4 linked regions of the Homo sapiens genome follow. The protein of the gene in region 3 purifies or fractionates together with the protein of the main gene of each other region. This does not show direct contact. Each region holds a gene or a part of one and is shown on either strand. Other genes may lie near its edges.

Region 1 (4,323 bases), on a different chromosome or scaffold from region 3:
CACACCCAGCTAATTTTTTGTATTTTTAGTAGAGACGGGGTTTCACCGTGTTAGCCAGGATGGTCTGGATCTCCTGACCTCGTGATCTGCCCGCCTTGGCCTCCCAAAGTGCTGGGATTACAGGCGTGAGCCACCGTGCCCGGCCATTCCTTTTCATAATTAGTAAAAATATATTTGCTTAAATAATCTTTATTACAACACCTTGTGAAATAAGATAGAGAAATGTGGAAATGATAGCTTACATAACTTGTCCAAGGTCACAAACTAGAAAATGCCAAATTCTAAAATAGGCACTTTCACACAGTTTTCTAATTTATTACTCCGAGCAACCTGATACAGAAGTGCTACATGACTCATTATTACTGTTTTACAGATGATAAAACAATCTGAGATTAGGGACTTTACCCAAATTCATTCACGCAGCTAAAGAAGAGACAGAGTAGTAGGCATTCAAATCCAGACCTTTAAATAGAAATTATGCCTTATTAAACTGGGATTTGGTCTCCTGATGAATAGCCATTTCTCAACAGTGAGATATAGCTATTCTTCTGTAGGGCGAATGGCAGTAAAGATACTAGGGTTGATACTCAAACTAGATTTCCATAGGCTGGTGCTCTCACATCTTTGTAGTTATATGGAAAAAACCAGGATTATACACCAGGGCAAGCAAGCAAGAAAGAATTATCTTTTTCTAGCTTAGCTTTTGAGTTAAGTTAGAAGGAGTTCCAAATATGTGGCAGGTAACACTGCTATTCACATAGATAATTTCTGTCTTTTTGATCACATGATGGTCCTTTATTGGAAAACAAATACAGGCAAAATCAAATAACAGACCCATTTTTTAGAAGTGATTTTCAGATTCCTATAAAATCAATTATGTCATAATTTTTTAGCCTTTCTTTTTCATTCATAAAATATATATCAGAAACTCTACACTCTTACCCAGATTTTAGATTAGCAAGTGACTTTTTTATTTTGCTTCCCCATTCTGCCCTTTGGCCTTTTATTGCCGGTTAACGTCTTCCAGTTACTTTAGAGGAAGGGCTGGGAAAGGTTCAGAACTCATCATTGGGTCTTGCTGCTTATCAGCCCTTCGGGTTTTTTTTTTTTTTTGAGATGGAGTCTCGCTCTGTCGCCCAGGCTGGAGTGCAGTGGTGTGATCTCGGCTCACTGCAACCTCCGCCTCCCGGGTTCAAGCGATTCTCCTGCCTCAGCCTGCCAAGTAGCTGGGACTACAGGCACACGCCACCACGCCCAGCTAATTTTTGTATTTTTAGTGGAGATGGGGTTTCAGCATGTTGGCCAGGGTGGTCTCGATCTCCTGACCTCGTGATCCGCCCGCTTCAGCCTCCCAAAGTGCTGGGATTACAGGTGTGAGCCACCGCACCCTGCCACTTCTGGTTTTAGTGGTTGTAAAATGTAGGTAAGCAAAGCTTAGTTATTAGTTGTAGCTTTATTGACATGTATAATAATTAATTGTAAAAGCATAATTAATATAGTGATTTTTAGTTTACACTTTTTAGAATTTAGAAAGTTTGTCTATTGATAAGTTAAACTTACTTGAGTGATTTGAGTTCCATAATAAAAAAATTGTTTCCTTACCAGTACATCTATACTATATGAGACCGAGTAAAAAAGCTCAGTAAAATTGATAAATGAACATTGCTCAGATTTTTTCCTACTCTAGTTTATAAAGCAATGCCTTGTCATGACACTAGATGGCATAGCACTTCTGCTCAAATCACTGATAGCCAGTTACTTTTTAACTTCAGTAGTTTGTGGTTTTGTTATTCAGTTAATTTACTTGTAATAAGTGGCAAATTAAAAGCAAAAATATCTCAGTATCATCTAAATGTATGCTAATGCATAGTGAATATTATAGTAAACTTAGTACTTTCCATTTTTATATTATCACTACTGAAAATCTCAAAAGAGGAGCTTAGTGATAATTAACTCGTTAAAAAGCAAAAGGTGCCGGGTGCGGTGGCTCACGCCTGTAATCCCAGCACTTTGGGAGGCCGAGGTGGGTGGATCACGAGGTCAGGAGATAGAGACCATCCTGGTTAACACCGTGAAACCCCGTCTCTACTAAAAATACAAAAAATTAGCTGGGTGTGATGGCAGGCACCTGTAGTCCCAGCTGCTTGGGAGGCTGAGGCAGGAGAATGGCGTGAACCTGGGAGGTGGAGATTACAATGAGCTGAGATGGTGCCACTGCACTCCATCCTGGGCAACAGAGCAAGACTCCATCTCAAAAAAAAAAAAAAGCAAAACGTTTGGCTTGTTTTGGTGGTATACCATGTTATTTGGTTTGTGGAGCCAGTGTTTTTGTATGAACATGATGAACTACTGATTAAAACTTTGATTTGTAAATTCCTGGGGTGAGTTGATCTGAATTGTATTTTATTCCACTGCCTACATAAATCCATAGTGCTCTGTGAAGCATATGAATAACATCACCGTGCTGTGCTTGAAGGGGAGTGAAGATGAATGGTATTGATTGTTATCTGCATCAATAAATGAGATATTCTGATTATGGTACAGTCAGCAGAAGGGAATTGAAGGCTTAAGATTTTAATATTTCCTTCAAGGAATTTATGATTTGATGTCAGTAGTTCCTCACATTTTTTAATAATGAAGGCTCCTTTCAATATCAAGATATTTTATAGATCTCCACATGATAACCTGTTGAACTTTTTGAGTATCTGTTGATCAAGAAAATAAAGTCAAAAGCTACAATTAATTAGTAATGTGCTCAAAATAAATTTGTATTTTATAAATCATAACATCTTTTCCATGTTACTCTGTCTATATGGAGTTCTTAATACCACACATTTGCTTAGGGAGATGGAATTAGCAACTAGTCTGTGCTACCCTGTATTTTTTTTTTAACCATGTAGTTGGATTTTTTAAAATACAATAAAAGAGTTCACTTTTCCAGGTTTGACAACATTTTTATGAATTGGAAATTTTCTGTGGCTACAGATACTATTAACATTTTGGAAAGGTGTAAAGAACATTGTTTTAATGTAAGGCTCTTCTCTAACCTCCCTCCCCTCTCCAAATTCTCCATAATATGAAGTAGGAAGATATGTATTTTTCTGTTGCCATTAAAATGTTCTGGCCATCGTGGGAGTGGGGATGGGGAGGGCGGGGATGGGAATTAGAACTTACTAGAATAAAATTCCAAATAGAGGTTTGGGGAAACCTACTTGTGAGTGCTTTTTAACCTCAAAATAAGGATTTGGGGTGGGTGGAGAAGGTGATGGGGCAGAAGAAGTTGTTTTTGGAGGAGAGAAAGCAGATTGAAAGGAAAAGGACAGCTGATAGCCACTTAAATAATGTCATCGTTAGAGTGATACCTATTTTTTGTAAAAAGAAAACAATATGCTCCATTCTTACAAAGCATTGATTGTATTTTAATATATACAATGTAAATACTATCATGCAGTGGTGTCCAAGGGAGAGAATACAGTCATGAGTTCTTAGTTTCTGTTATTGGTTGGGCCAATAAAGCCCCTTCATCATCCTTCTTTTCTGCTTATCACTAGAGACAGAAACTAAAAACCATGGCTTCAGGCTGCTAAAAGCCTAAAACAAAACAGAACAACAACAACAAATAAGGCAGGTTGGACAAGCTTGCTGAGTATTTGGGAGCCTTTTTCAAAAGTCTGATTTGGGGGAAGTAAAGTCACTTATTTTAAGCTACCTTAGTATAGCACCTAAAGAGTTACTTTGTGAATTTTGTATGGCTGCAATTGAAAAAAAAAATTGCTCACTTTCACTTGCATTTAAAAATCAGAGCTCTAAAAGTTAATTCTTGTTTTTTATTGGGAAACTCTGAGAGAAACATTAATTGATGAGGGTAATAATTTTGGTATAAAGCCAGTGAAATTTTAATGCTTAACATGTTGGGTTTTTTAAAATTACTGATTGAAACTCTTCCTTTTCTATTTAAAGATGATGAAAAAGATGAGCATACTTCTAAAAAGCGCAAAGTAGAGCCAGGAGAACCAGCAAAGAAGAAAAAGTAGAAACAAATGACCAGAATTTCTGTACTGCTAAACTTGTTGAAATGTTTCTTTGGACAGATTAAGTTGATATTGTGGGTTATTATGCCACATCTCCATGAAAATGCATACGTTAATGAACTAATAAGTATTGCCTCAAGAACTTTCCACTATAGAATTCTTTTTTTATTTAAAACATGTATGTATTTAAAACTCAACTGGTGACTTGTGATTGTGAAATTGATAACACTTGGATGCATTCTTGCTCTCACAGAATTGGTGACATGCTTTGAGAGTTTTGTCACATGTTGAC
Region 2 (4,958 bases), on a different chromosome or scaffold from region 3:
ATCAAAACAATGAAAATTACTTTGCCTCATACGCACAAATATATATAATAATGTGGGAAGTACACTTACAGAAAATTAAAGCTTTAATCCTAGAAAAACATTTTACCCATTACTTTTTTGCTTACCTTGCGGTAGACTACCATCAAAATCTAATTATATGCTAATTAAAATCCTAATCTTGAGCAGGGCTATTAAAAGCTGTGGGTAATTACTTAATTGGCACTATCTTCCACAACAAATTTTAAAATACCTACCTTCTAAACCTTCTCTCGTGTGTGTGTGTGTGTGTGTGTGTGTGTGTGTGTATTCTCAAAACTACATTTTTTTCATACAAGAAAAGATGAAAAGTGACTAAGAGACTCTAATGAATTCCTTTGGATTTTGTTATCTGAGTCTAGGTGCCATGAGAATGCAGCACAAGGTCAACAAAATGGCTTGTTTTAAAGACCATGACCTTTTTCTTGACGTTTTCATGTCTACAGTGTTGGGTAATCCAACCGTCACTTAAACCAACTAAATTCAACAACCAGAAAGTAAGCAAAAACACCTTTGAGTAGGTAAATGTCACAGGTCAATTCACTAATTCTCATCTACTGTATTCATCATGAAAGCGCTCTCATTCAGAAACCTATTTTCTTTTTATTTGGTAGACAATTCCACCAAGTTTGAAAATCTGGCTTCCCATGTCACCGAGAATACAAGCAACAGTAAATGACATGGAAAGATCACTAGATGAAGGCACTCTACAAGAAGACACGGCAGAAACCAAGGACGAAAATGTCTTCCACTGCAGTAGCATCACTGATTCTTGGTGTGCACGTGTCATTATTTCCCTCTCCCTGTTTTATCACTGACACTTTTGTATTTTACAGTGGTTTTCAAATGAGTTTATGGTTTTGTTACACCTATAATCTTTATCATAAACTAACATATTATTTCTGGTGAAACTAGAGGTGTTTAAAAAGTGATCGCTAACAGCCTGGCAATTAAGGAAGAAGACAGAAAATTTTTATTTATTTATTTATTTTGAGACGGAGTCTCACTCTGTTGCTCAGGTTGGAGTGCAGTGGTGGGATCTCGGCTCACTGCAACCTGAGCCTTCCGGGTTCAAGCGATTCTCCTGCCTCAGCCTCCCAAGTAGCTGGGATTACAGGTGCCTGCCACCACACTTGGCTAATTTTTTTTTTTTGGTATTTTTAGTAGAGACGGGGTTTCACCATATTGGCCAGGCTGGTTTCGAACTCCTGACCTCAAGTGATCTACCCGCCTCGGCCTCCCAAAGTGCTAGGATTACAGGCGCGAGCCACCGCGCCCGGCTGGAAAAATTATTTTTAAAAATCAACACAACACTGCAAGAGTCTGGTAGGTGGTTACTTAATTGAGAGGGAACAACCTGCGGGATTTCAGGTGCCTTTGTGTCACTGTCAAAGTACACTAACTGATGGCCATGAAGAAGAGGTTAATCTGCACTTTTAGTATGCAATTTAAAGTGTCAAGGTAGTATGTAATGTATTTCATTTTTTAAGGAAAAATTAAAAATAAAAATGGATATCCAGGAAGTTCCTGACATACAGCACCTCATTTCCCTGTCCTGGGTGGACAAATGAAGTACTGGTAGGGCAATTTCTAATGAGGCAAGAGTTGACAAATATGTAGGCATCAACTCAGTGTTTATATTATATAGCTTTTTTATTGGTCTCCCGTTTTTTCACAATACAAAATTTTATACAAAATTCAAAAATTTATACAATCTGGAAATTCGACAACCTCTCCTGCCATACAAAAGGCAGTTTGGCACTCACATTTGCCCAGTCCAGGGAATAAAAGGCACACAGACATTTCCGAATTTCACAACATTTGATTTATATTGATGCTTGGTATTACACCCACTTTTAACCAACAATATTGTCTTACTAATCCAAGTACCGCGTAGATCTTACAATGTGTATGTTTTCTACGGTTTTCATTTAGCACTACAATTGTCCTTCTGTTTAGTCAACCTTGTAATAGTAAAATATGTCACAGAAGCAACTGCTAAATTTAAAATTACTCTTCTCATTTAAGGCGAAAGGTGTTCATTTTCCTCAAAAGCTTTTCATTTGGTCGTATAGTATCATATAATGATTCAGACAAAGCCACTTGAGATCTCTAAAGCATAATTACCCACCTTTTTAAAATTGCGATATGACTACTCGTAAATAGGAAAAAATCCACACATAAACCATTAGTTATGCAATTTTATCATACATCAAAAATGCTTATGCCCCATCCTATTTTTATGTCAATTTTTCAACGTTTTATAGTTTTATTTGCATGTCTCGGGCCACACGAAATGTGCCTTATGGAGATAATACATATTTTCTGGATTGGCTTTAATATGTGTCAGAGCAGTTCCCTTACGTTAGAAGCAGCTCATCTTGGCGACGCTGAGTTTTTTAAAAATTAAAGGAGAAAAAAAAAAAAAACCTGTGTGTGTCCAGGAGCCAGCAGCGCCCACTAGGAGAGGGAGGCGGAAGCCTGGAAAGCTTGGGGCCGGATTGAGGGACCATTGGGGTGGCCCTGGAGTGAAACCCTATACCGTCGGGGGCGGGGCAGAAGAGGGTGAGGGTGCAGATGTTGGAAATTTTCCTAAGCCAGCGTCCACGGTTCCTCAGTTTGGGGGGGCGGGGGGGTACGACGCAGAGAGCTCCTTTCCTCGGGGTGACACCCCCACCTCGGCAGGCGGGGTTCAAACGAACAAGGGATGGTTTTTTTCCTGCCATCCAAAAGACCGACATTGCCAATGAAAGAAAGAAATGTCTTCCCTGTCACCCTCCACCCAGCAACCACCAGCACCTTGAAATTCAAATTACAAAAAAAGCCCCAGCAAAACCCCTTTAGCGCGAGTGTGGGATTGAAGGGCCCAGATTTCCCAGGCAGAGGCCGACGGGAAGGCGGGGGGAGAGGGAGCGAGCGAGAGGAGAGGGAGAGGCGGAGGCTTTTTCCTGCACAGCCCCATCCCCCACCCCGTTACCCGAGTTCCGGGAAGGTGGAGGGGGTCGGGGGCTGTCGAGGGGCTCCCGAGCCCCCAGGCCCCGGGAGAGCGGGCACCCCTCCACCCCGCGCCGCTCCCGCCCGCGCCCAGCCCCGCCCCCGTCCTCCAGGCGGCGAGAAGGAAAGGGGGAGGGGAGCGAACGCCAGGCGGTTCCGCCGCCGACCCCCGCACCCGCCGCCCCTAGCCCCGCAAAGCTCCGCGGGTACCTGTCGGCGCCGAAAGGTCAGGGTTTGGGCCCCTCAGAGGGGCCAGGCACAGGATTTGTCCACCACACACACACCCCCTTCCTATTTACCTCCTTCTTCTTCTCGCCCTTCTCCGTGGCCGCGGTGGCTTCGGTGGCCGCGGCGGCCGCTCCCTCCTCCTGAGAGGTGGACGGCCCGGGCTGCTCGTCCTCTATGACCACGATAGTGGCGGTCGCATCCGCGGCTGCCACGGTGGCTGCCACTGCGGCAGTGTCCTGCTCCATGCCGTGGGAGCGGGAACGAGTAGGGGGACAAGGCAGGGGACGAGGGCTCCTGGGCGGCGGCAGTGGCTGCACTGGAAAGAGCTAGATGGAGCAGGGGTGGGGAATCACTCCGCTTCCAACCCCTTCGCTCAGGCCCCCCCTTCTTTAAATAACCCTCAACCCTGCCCCACTTCCGTCCACCCACCCTACGTCATGGCCTCCCCCCGTCACTCTCCCCCCTTCCTCCACCCCCCCCCCCTCAACGATCGCGAGACTCCCCTTCCCCACCCAGAGCCCGGGCCGGCCCCGCACGACCAACTGTTGCCTGAGTGTGGGGCGCGGACAGGGGTGGAGGCGGGAACCCACAACTCGCGGCCCCCTGAAAATCTCCTTTCCCACACGCCCCCAACAGTGAGCCTGAGCTCCCCTCGCAGATGCGTGCAGAACGAATCCTCTTTCCCTTAAATCTGCTCTTTGTACCTCGGGGCGCTCTCCCCTTCTTGCACAAAGAACTTTTCCTCTGCTCCTAACTGTACTGTAGAAGGTCTTTTTCACCATTTGCAAAGCGCGGAACCCCTCTGGGACTGCCCTTTCCCGGATCCCTAAAGAGGTAGGATTAGCGGTGCTGTTTCCACCTTCCTAAATTCTGCACAAAGAGAAGCACTCCTTGAATCTCTTGATTGCAGCTGCAAACACATTCACTTACAAGGCAAAGTCTGACTCTCAAGTTTTACGTATATTTGCTCTATTTTCACCTCTGGTACCTCTCAGGTAGCCAATGTGCAGGAACACTTCTCTTACCTTCACCACTGCATTTTTAAATTCCTAGGGGACAAGGTTACCCACCGAACCTGGGGCAACATGTGGTAGGCACTCAATATTAGCAATTGAAATGAATTACTGTGATTTTTTGGCACAGGTTCTATTTGCACCTCCATTATTATTTGGTAATAATACAACACATAATATGAATGATCATGGATATAAAATCATTTCGTGATACAGAATCAATCAGTGTCCATCAGCAGGTGAATGGTTAAGGAAAATGTGGTCTGTATACACAATGGAATACTATGTAGCCATAAAAAAGAATGAAATGTCATTTGCAGCAACATAAATGAAACTGATGTTTATTATGTTGCACAAAATAAGCCAGGCACAGAAAGACAAATAACACATGTTCTCACTCATATGTGGGAGCTAAAAAGTTGATCTCATGGAGGTAGAGAGTAGAATGATAGGTACCAGAAGTCTGGGAAGGGTGTGTGGGGTTGAGGCGGATCAATGAAGAGAGGTCAGTTAATGAGTACAAATATACAGTTAGATGGAAGGAATAAGTTATAATGTTCAAAGTAGAGTAGGGTGACTCTACTGAACAAACAATGCAATGTATATTTCGAAATAGCTAGAAGAGAGGACATGAAATGTTCCCAACACATAGAAATGATAAATACTTGAGGCAATGGACACCCTAAA
Region 3 (4,039 bases):
TCTACAAGAATTCAAAGAGAGAAAGAAGTATCTGGTTTTTCCCTCAAGCCTTCTCTTTTCCAGGAGAAACAACCCTACTCCTTGGGCTTTTCTCAGAGGACGTGCTGTTCTTCCTCCTACCCTCTGGCCTCATCGTGGGTTTGCCCAGGACAGCCACTGGGAGCCCGTCTACCAACACATTAGGGGAGAAGTGGCAAATGTCACGCACCGACACATCTTGCCCTGGGCTAGTGCAGGTCTCTTGCCAGGTTCCAACCCAGGACCCTAACGCTAGGGATGGTTTTAGTAACCAGCCCAGTGAGGTGGCTCAAGACTATAATTCCAGCTACTCAGGAGGCAGAAGCCAGAGGATCACTTGAGGCCAGAAGTCTGAAACCAGCCGGGGCAACATAATGAGACTCAGGCTCTAAAAAATAAAAAATAAAAAAATTAGCCAGGCGTGGTGGCATGTGCCTGTAGTCCCAGCTACTCAGGAGGCTGAAGTAGGAAGATCGCTTGAACCCAGGAGTTTGAGGCTGTCGTGAGCTATGACTGCACCACTGCACTCCAGCATGAGTGATAGAACAAGATCTCATCTCTAAAACAACAACAAAAAACCAGATTGACTCCAAGGTCTTTTCCCTCATCCCCAAGTCTTTTCTGGGGAGAGGTGGGCCCTGCTTGTATAACTCTCTCGTCTGCTTCCTCCTTTGCCTTTTGACCACTTCTCTATTACTCCTTTGCTTTGCTGGAATCCCCGCCCCCCAACACTATCACTACTTCCTCCTCTTCCAATATTCACTATTATGGGCTTGAAAGGAGCCCCGCCATTTCCGCCCCACCCCCACTTGGCCCCTGAGACTCCCACTGTTAGCCCAGGTTTCCAGAGTTGACAAGTTTTCTGTCAAGTAGGAGGGAACTCTATAATTGATCCTGTGTGACCAGAGATGTTGCTGGCAGTAGGTTCAATATGAGCTGTGATGAGGTACAGACAGTGGACAGTTCAAGCATGCAAGCTCTCCATGGAGTATTTCCCTAGAAATACGCAACCTGTGGGGATGAGGGAGTGGGTAGTGGCCCTTTTAGAGGGCAAGACAGAGGCTCAAGCTAGGAGGCTTTACTGGCTGATGGCACCAGGAAAAGGGGAGCCACTTAAAGGCTGTACTTTCCATGTGAAGGGCAGAGAGAGCCTGGAGAGGTCTCAGTGGCCACAGGTAATACAGAAGTGGAAAATGTTACCCTGGAAGCAAAAAGCCACGGGGGCTGGTATTGTCTGGCAAGATATTAAAGGGACAGGGTGGGAGGTAGGGGTGGGACACAGAGTTTGCAGAAATGGATTTTGGATGATCGACTTTTTTCCATTTATACTGAGGACCCAACCAAATGACATGATCTGCAATACAAGAGATTTAAATAGGATGTAAGGAAGAATCTGCCTGTTAGGAGGTTCTCCCTAGGTGACAAAAGATAGTAGTGGGCTCTCCTTCCTGGGGGAGTGAAATCATCTATTAGATGCTCACAAATCCAGGTAAGGAATTTAACATAGGACCAGTTTGGGATATTCAAGTTCCTCACATCCAAGTTCAGTAAAGTAGGGGGTTGGAACGGTGGTGGGGCACAATAACTGTTCTGTCCCATTCATCTCTCAGGTATCCAGCACCCTCTACCTCGGTCATTAAGAATGGAGGTTTCCTTGAGACCACACGTCTCCTTTGGAGGATGGGGCAGGGAGACACCAGTTTAGTGCCTAGCCACATGCCAGGCACAGAGCCTCACGAGGGGCACTCAAGTACTTGCAGAGTGAACGAAGGCACCCCTATGGCAGGTCCTAGAGAGCTGAGGCCTACCTTGCTCCTTTCCCCCAGTGTTCGCTGATTCTAGTGGCTGAGGGCCTTGCTTCCTCCCCACTAACTAGGGTAGGGAAGGCAGCACTACTGGAGGACTAGAGGAAGAGAGAGAAAAACTCCTTGGCCTCCCAGAAATTGTCTAGGCCAGATGATTGACTTCAGGACAATCATTGATTGGGATTTTCCTGGGCTTAGATTCTCCCCCTTCCCTACCTGAGGTCTCAAGGCCTAAGGTAAGTTTCCCAACCTGATATGTGTGGTGGATAGGGGGGTGAGCTGCGTAGCAGTATAATAGGGTCCTCAGTCCTCACCCACTCCGCAGCTCTGTCCCACCTGGCGGGCAGGGTTAGACAGGCCAGACAGGTTTGGGACTGGGGGCGGCCCCTTTATGCCTCTCTCAGCTCCAGAGGAAATGACTGCCAAGCACTGGCTAACTGTTTCTCTTGAAAGTCAGGAGGAAGCAGCAAGAAAGAGCACACTGCGTGCCCAAGCATGACTCTGTGGAGGTGTGTGTGCTCATCACACAGAGTCTGGGATGTGGCCTGGCTCCTGGCCCTCAGAACCCCATAATGGCCCTCAGAACCTCCTGGCCTCCAGTTGTGGGGCCCAGTTCTGCGCAAGGTTTCTGCACACACTTCACTAGGTCTCTGGAGGGTGGGCAGCGGCATCTACCAGGCTACGTTGGCCCAGTTACCCAGGACCAGCCCCCCGACCCCAGGCCCGGGACGCTGGATGGCTGGGTGCCCCTGGAGTGGCACAGTGTCCACACCTGGCTCCCAGGCGGCAGGGGCTGGTGTGGTGCATCTGCCGTCCTCCCCCGGGTCCCGGGTGCCCCTCACCTTGAGCTGGGACTTGGAGACTTTGCCACTCTTCTCCACGTCCAGCGCGGTAAAGGCGTACCAGATGGACTTGAGCAGTTCCTTGCGCAGGGCCATGGCTGAGGCGCCCGCCCGGCTGGGGGCGGCTCTGACACTAAGATCCGGTTTCAGGAAATGCAAACGGCTGCAGAGACCGCAGAGGTGCCGTGGTGGAGCGAGAGCACCACCTGCCTGCACATTGCGTGAGGCTCTGTGCTGTCGAGAACCCTGCCTGTTGTTCTGGCAGTGCTCAGAGGCTCCACTCCCTGCATGGGAACTGGGGACCAACTCTCCGAGAGCGGGAACCCTCGTTCTGTATCCACGTGGCTCCCGGGGCATGTGAGGCCCTTTTAGAAGCCTCCTCAGACCCGGAGGCTTCTGGAGCCTTCCAGGGCTCCCAGACGCAGCTTGCTGAGGGAAAAAGCAAGCTCATCCTGATATTGGGGTCAGACAGAGTAAAGGTCCAGTCCTAGTTCAACATAGGAGGCCTTGGGTAAGTTACTTAACCTCCTTGAGCAGTTTCCTCATTTGTAAAGCAGGAAAAATGCCTCCGTGTTGTAAGAATGTCTGAGAATGGACGTAAAGCACATAGTAGGCTCTGGGTAGAGCTTTTGGTGCTACTTAACATTACCATGGTGGTGGGACTCCATCCAAGTGGAAGGAAACAAAGGCAACATCACAAAGCTGGAGAAGGAAATGGGCCAGGGCACCTCTCCAGGTCAGGATGTGGCACTTGACTTGCTGGCTCCCTATCCCCTCAGCACTGGCTCTAAACGGTACTCAGAGCACTGCCCACTCTAGCCCCAGTAGCCCTGAAGACACTGGAAACTTCCTGAAACACATGGGGGTGAGCCTTGTGGTGCACCTCAACTTTAAGGGTCCCAGCAGCAGCAGGCTTGGGATTCAGGGCCCTCCATGTCAGTGCTTCCTTTCTTCAGATCCAGTGTCCAAAAGGACTGGGACACGCCCACACCAGGAATGGTGGTCACAGATGTTGAAGACATCTGCTCAGGCCAATTCTAAGACACCTCCCCCTACCCCCTAAGCCAAATAAAAATCCCTCCAAGTAAGGTGCTGGGAATACCTCCTGCCTGGAAGCACGCCCCCGCCCCTCTCTTCCCAAGGAGCTGGTGGCAAGAGTAAATGGGAGCTTTCTAGGCATCCTGGGAGAGGATGCCTGGATCAGAGGAGGGGGTTCCAATCCTAGGAGGCAGGAAGGGGTTGGGGCATATCCATCACAGCAGAGAGAGGAAAAGAGGCACCACCAATCCCTGCAATGTTCCTGTGTAGGCAGAGTCAAACCCAGAGCTTCTTCCCATCAAGTGCCTTCCCCTGTATCCCTTCTTCCCCCTGGAG
Region 4 (4,323 bases), on a different chromosome or scaffold from region 3:
CTTAACATTTCTTTCCCTTAATGGGCAGAACTACACACAGTGGGGAGTAGACACACTGACAAATATATTTGCCTATACCACTGTAACTGGATTTCTAACCAAAAGAGATAAGGTACATTGAACATGCTCTGCAACCAAAAGGTTCCTGTCAGAGAAAAGGATGAACTAATGAATTTATGACACAGTTCCTATAGAAACAGGCTTAGTAAAATGTCTTACTGGACTTTTAATGAATAATTAAAATGTCAGGAAGAATGCCATCATATTAAAAATGGAGAAGGTAAAACAGAAGGAGCACAGAATTGTAGTCAGAGAACCCTAGGTTGGAAACGGTAGAAAAGCATCAGTTCTCGTCATCTCTAAAATGTGGTTTATACTACCCATTTCCAAAGGACACTGCAGACCTTAAAAGAGATAACTCATGTAAAGACATCCAGTAATGGCTCAGAGAGCATTAGGAAATTCTCAGCAAATGTCAGGAAAACAAAATGAAAGGGAGAGAAACTTTTTATCTCTCTTTTTTGCTTACTTGTTTAGCCAGGTTTCCATTGTTCTTCTTCACCCACTTTCTACTCATGTCTATGTACCCTTCTCCTACCAGCCTTTACAGTTCTGCATCATTTCCTTTGATGAGAAGTACCCACTTTTGCCTTGCATATTCCTCATTCTCTACTAGCTTGTTTAAATCAGTGAGGACTCAGGTATGCGGGCGTAGGATGGAAGTGAGAAAGAAGCTGCTTTAAAACAGTGAGGAGAGCAGGGACCTGGCTTATAGTCAATGCGTGGCAGTCTCTTCAGCGGAGAGATGGATGTTTAGCTTTTAATGGGAACACTTTTAGTTCCAAAGCTTATAACTACTGTATTATACATCAGTTTTCATTTCCTCAAATTAAGTCATAGCTCTGCTTCAAAGGAAAGTGCTTGAAGTGCTGCCCTGTGAGAGAGATTCTGTCCATATCCGAAGACTTCCACATCACTCATAGAAAAGAATAGAGTCTTACAGAAGTGGACTGTACCCACTCTACAGATAAAGTATTCCCAATGTATTCAACTTGTGGGATTCCCAAGAGTTCTTCTGAAACACTCAACTCCTCTCTGTATCCCTGGGAGACACAGCAAATATACAAACGCTCACTTACACTGAGCCAGGCCGCTGATAGCCATTGCTTGAGGCAGTGTCTAGTCTTAATCTCCTGCACATTTTCGGAGGCAGGTCTGGGTTTGGTGAAGCTTTGGGTGTCTCCTTGGAACCTACAGAAGTTAAGCTTTGAATAGATCCACTGTAGCTCTTGTTTCCTAAAAAGAAAGCCCAAGAAAATAGGCAAGGTGCTATTAGACAACATAATAGCAATAACACGTACATGTGCATAACAAAAGGAAGCATTTTTCTCTGAGCCCAAATGGGAAGGTACAGAATGTTCTTTGAGTACAGCAACCCATCACTTGGGGAGATCAAAATCTACAATAATTACAAAGACATCACTTCACAGACATGGAAAGATTCAGGAAAAATGTCACAGTGCCTAGGTTGTAAAATCCAAGCACAGGAAAAAAGTAGATAAGCATCATTAGTTTCTCCACCATTAACTTTATCCCTGCTTAACCATGCTGAATAATCCAGCACAAGTGACACTGAGACAATGACATCTTGCACAAGTTCCACTCTGCCTTACCTTCAGCTGCAGAGATGGATCTGAGAGAAGAAGCAGAAGCTCTTTTCAGTCCTGAAAGCCCATAAGGCTCTTTCTTGACTAGGTCTATGGGTGGGGAAACGTCTCCTGGGCTAGTGACTGAAGCAACACTCTGGCAGTCTGATTCTGCATCTGTCTTGGTTGCATCTTCTCTGGAACTTGATTCAGGACTAGTTGTCCACAGACCAAGGCTTTTCTGTCCATTGGAAGATGATGGGGTTGCAATCCAAGGAATCCCTCCAGATTTCTCCCTGGGCTGGCAGGAAGCTGACTTTGTAGTGCTATTTTGTTCAGAGGAATGAGAAGAGAGTGACTCAATGCTCCCCATAGGTGTGCTGTCTGGGCTGCTGCTATAGGAGTCACCTAAGGAGTAGGAGGGAGAGAGATGAAAGCAACTGTAACTATCTATTGATAACAGCATCACCAAAACCCTTCTGTTCTCCAACTTACCATGTGTTCTGCGGCCACCTGACCCCATTAAAGTGGTAGGCCCCTACCTAGTACGGAGAACTGTCCTCAGTACTGGAGAAAGGCTTTAAAATATGCATTTGAACTTGCCAAACGTATTTTTCAATGCTATTTTAGGAAGTTTATGTATGTACCTATGAACTACCTGCCTTTAGATAATAACTTTACTTCTTGAAGCATAAGTGGGTTGACTTGAATTCCCACAAAATTTGTTTATGAAACAGGATTCAGAAGTAAGAGAAATAAGATTCCTTCATGATATTACAAGGAATCAATGAAAGGGGGTATAGTAAAAACATATTTCTGCTTTCTTTTACTTTTCTGATCATAGGTGATTGATTCCAAGTTACAAAGTACTCAGCCTTCTTTCATTCAAAGGCACCATTAAATGTCAGTAGTAAATTACAAGTACCTCAATTTTCAAAGGCTTTTTTCCTTTCCTGCTAAGAATATAGAAATGTAAGAAACTGGCTATTTTGCTGGTTTTATTTCCTAATGTTCCTAAAAGCAAGTTATAAGAAAAATCAGATAAAGCATAATAATGCATTCACATATATCTAAATTAAAAATTAGTAAACTATTTTTTTAAATTTTTCTGGGTACATAATAGGTATGCATATTTGTGGAGAACATAGGATATTTTGATACAGGTGTGCAACTTGAAATAAGCACATCATGGTAATGGAGTATCCGTCTCCTCAGGCAGTTGTCCTTTGAGTTACAAACAATCCAATTACATTCTTTTAGTTATTTTAAAATATATAATTGACTATTTTCTATTAAATATTGACTGTGAGCAAAAAATTGGGGTGGGGGGTATAAAATAAAATGAGAACAGCCACAGTTTAATGTGTGCCATGGTGTCAAGATGCCACCCACATCACCTTAGGGCTTGGCTCAGAATTGTAAGTTGATGATAATGTGTGTTGTTTCTTTTTATCTTTTCTCTTTCAGACACTGATACCCAAGAGATAATGCTTTAAGAACATAATGTGAAAGGAAGGAAGAAAATGACAGCTTCAGTCAGACTTTGTCTTGCTTTCTTCTTTACCACTTTGACAATAGGACAGAACCTGCTACAAAGGAGCACCCAATGTACTTAATCACAGTTGCAGAAAAAAGGGCCTTGAGCCCTTTTTTCTTTTTTTCCTTTTTGTATCAATAATGAATTTGCTTACCCAAGCAACTGTACAACTATTGACAGAGAATATACAAATGATAAAAGAGGAGGTGTTGGGGAAAGAGCATCAGTGAGAACATCTTCTATTTCTACCTAATTACCAATACAGTGAAATACATCTGAACCAAAGAATGAAGAAAGCATCTCCCTAAGGCCGGGTGCACTTACTATCAGGTTCGGCCAGGCATGGAGTATACCTCCCTCTGGGCTTCCTAGACCCTGTAGAGAGGCAGATTGCTCGTGTCCTTCGGGATCCAGATCGAGACTGAGGCTGAGGAAGAGGAATGCTTGGGTCTGGAGCAGTATGAAAAATCTACGTATAAGAAAAATGGACCAAGGTCAATAAAAGGGTGATATTGCCACTTTCATTATAAAATAAGCTTTGAACCATATGCTACTTAATCAGCTGCAAAATATAAGTATCCTAGAGCAATTGTAACTTTTCCATTTATCTGGAGTATTCTTTCACGGGGTTTTCTTTTTTATTCTCTCCCATTTCCCAAAAGTAAAATCTAGAAGATCTTTCAATAACTTTAAGAAACCTTCCAAATATGAACAAGACATATTGATGGTTTTTATTGTAATACTCTCTTTCCACCTTCATACTCTGAAAAAACATAACCTGAGAAGAGCTGAGGCTCACTCTATATCATTTCTCCCACTGAATGGCTCCTTGCTTCTCAGGAGAAGATGCTGCCATGCTGTTGGCTCTGAGCTGCCAAGGAGTGTGGCTAGCTGCAGGTTAAGGTATGTGCAGAGCTACAGGACACAGCCATGTGCTCTTGCATTGTGAGAGAGCTTGTGCCCTTAGATAGACACTAAGGGCATGCTTCTGTGGGTGCTGGGAAGGGACCCAGGGGAGGAGAAGGCCTTAATCATTCTCTCACAAGGACCAGATCAGAGATAAAAGGATTACAAATTGTTAGACCTTAAATGGTTCAATTTGCTTAATACTCCAACTAATTCAGCTTTCAAAATTTCCCA

Evidence for each region.
Region 1: the proteins of DEF6 (region 3) and C1orf52 purify together in Homo sapiens (affinity purification with mass spectrometry; 3 studies listed by BioGRID and IntAct, with this or other methods). This does not show direct contact.
Region 2: the proteins of DEF6 (region 3) and SMARCA1 purify together in Homo sapiens (affinity purification with mass spectrometry; 3 studies listed by BioGRID and IntAct, with this or other methods). This does not show direct contact.
Region 4: the proteins of DEF6 (region 3) and ARHGAP42 purify together in Homo sapiens (affinity purification with mass spectrometry; 3 studies listed by BioGRID and IntAct, with this or other methods). This does not show direct contact.

The regions. Positions count from the first base shown.
Region 1 is NC_000001.11:85,252,340-85,256,662, reverse strand, and holds part of C1orf52 (UPF0690 protein C1orf52), read left to right. Parts: intron 1-3,960; coding exon 3,961-4,034; 3' UTR 4,035-4,323.
Region 2 is NC_000023.11:129,519,868-129,524,825, forward strand, and holds the start of SMARCA1 (SWI/SNF-related matrix-associated actin-dependent regulator of chromatin subfamily A member 1), read right to left. Parts: upstream 3,624-4,958; 5' UTR 3,504-3,623; coding exon 3,330-3,503; intron 1-3,329.
Region 3 is NC_000006.12:35,296,579-35,300,617, reverse strand, and holds the start of DEF6 (differentially expressed in FDCP 6 homolog), read right to left. Parts: upstream 2,801-4,039; 5' UTR 2,762-2,800; coding exon 2,666-2,761; intron 1-2,665.
Region 4 is NC_000011.10:100,973,788-100,978,110, reverse strand, and holds part of ARHGAP42 (rho GTPase-activating protein 42), read right to left. Parts: intron 3,653-4,323; coding exon 3,508-3,652; intron 2,055-3,507; coding exon 1,674-2,054; intron 1,297-1,673; coding exon 1,140-1,296; intron 1-1,139. UniProt on the Homo sapiens protein: May influence blood pressure by functioning as a GTPase-activating protein for RHOA in vascular smooth muscle.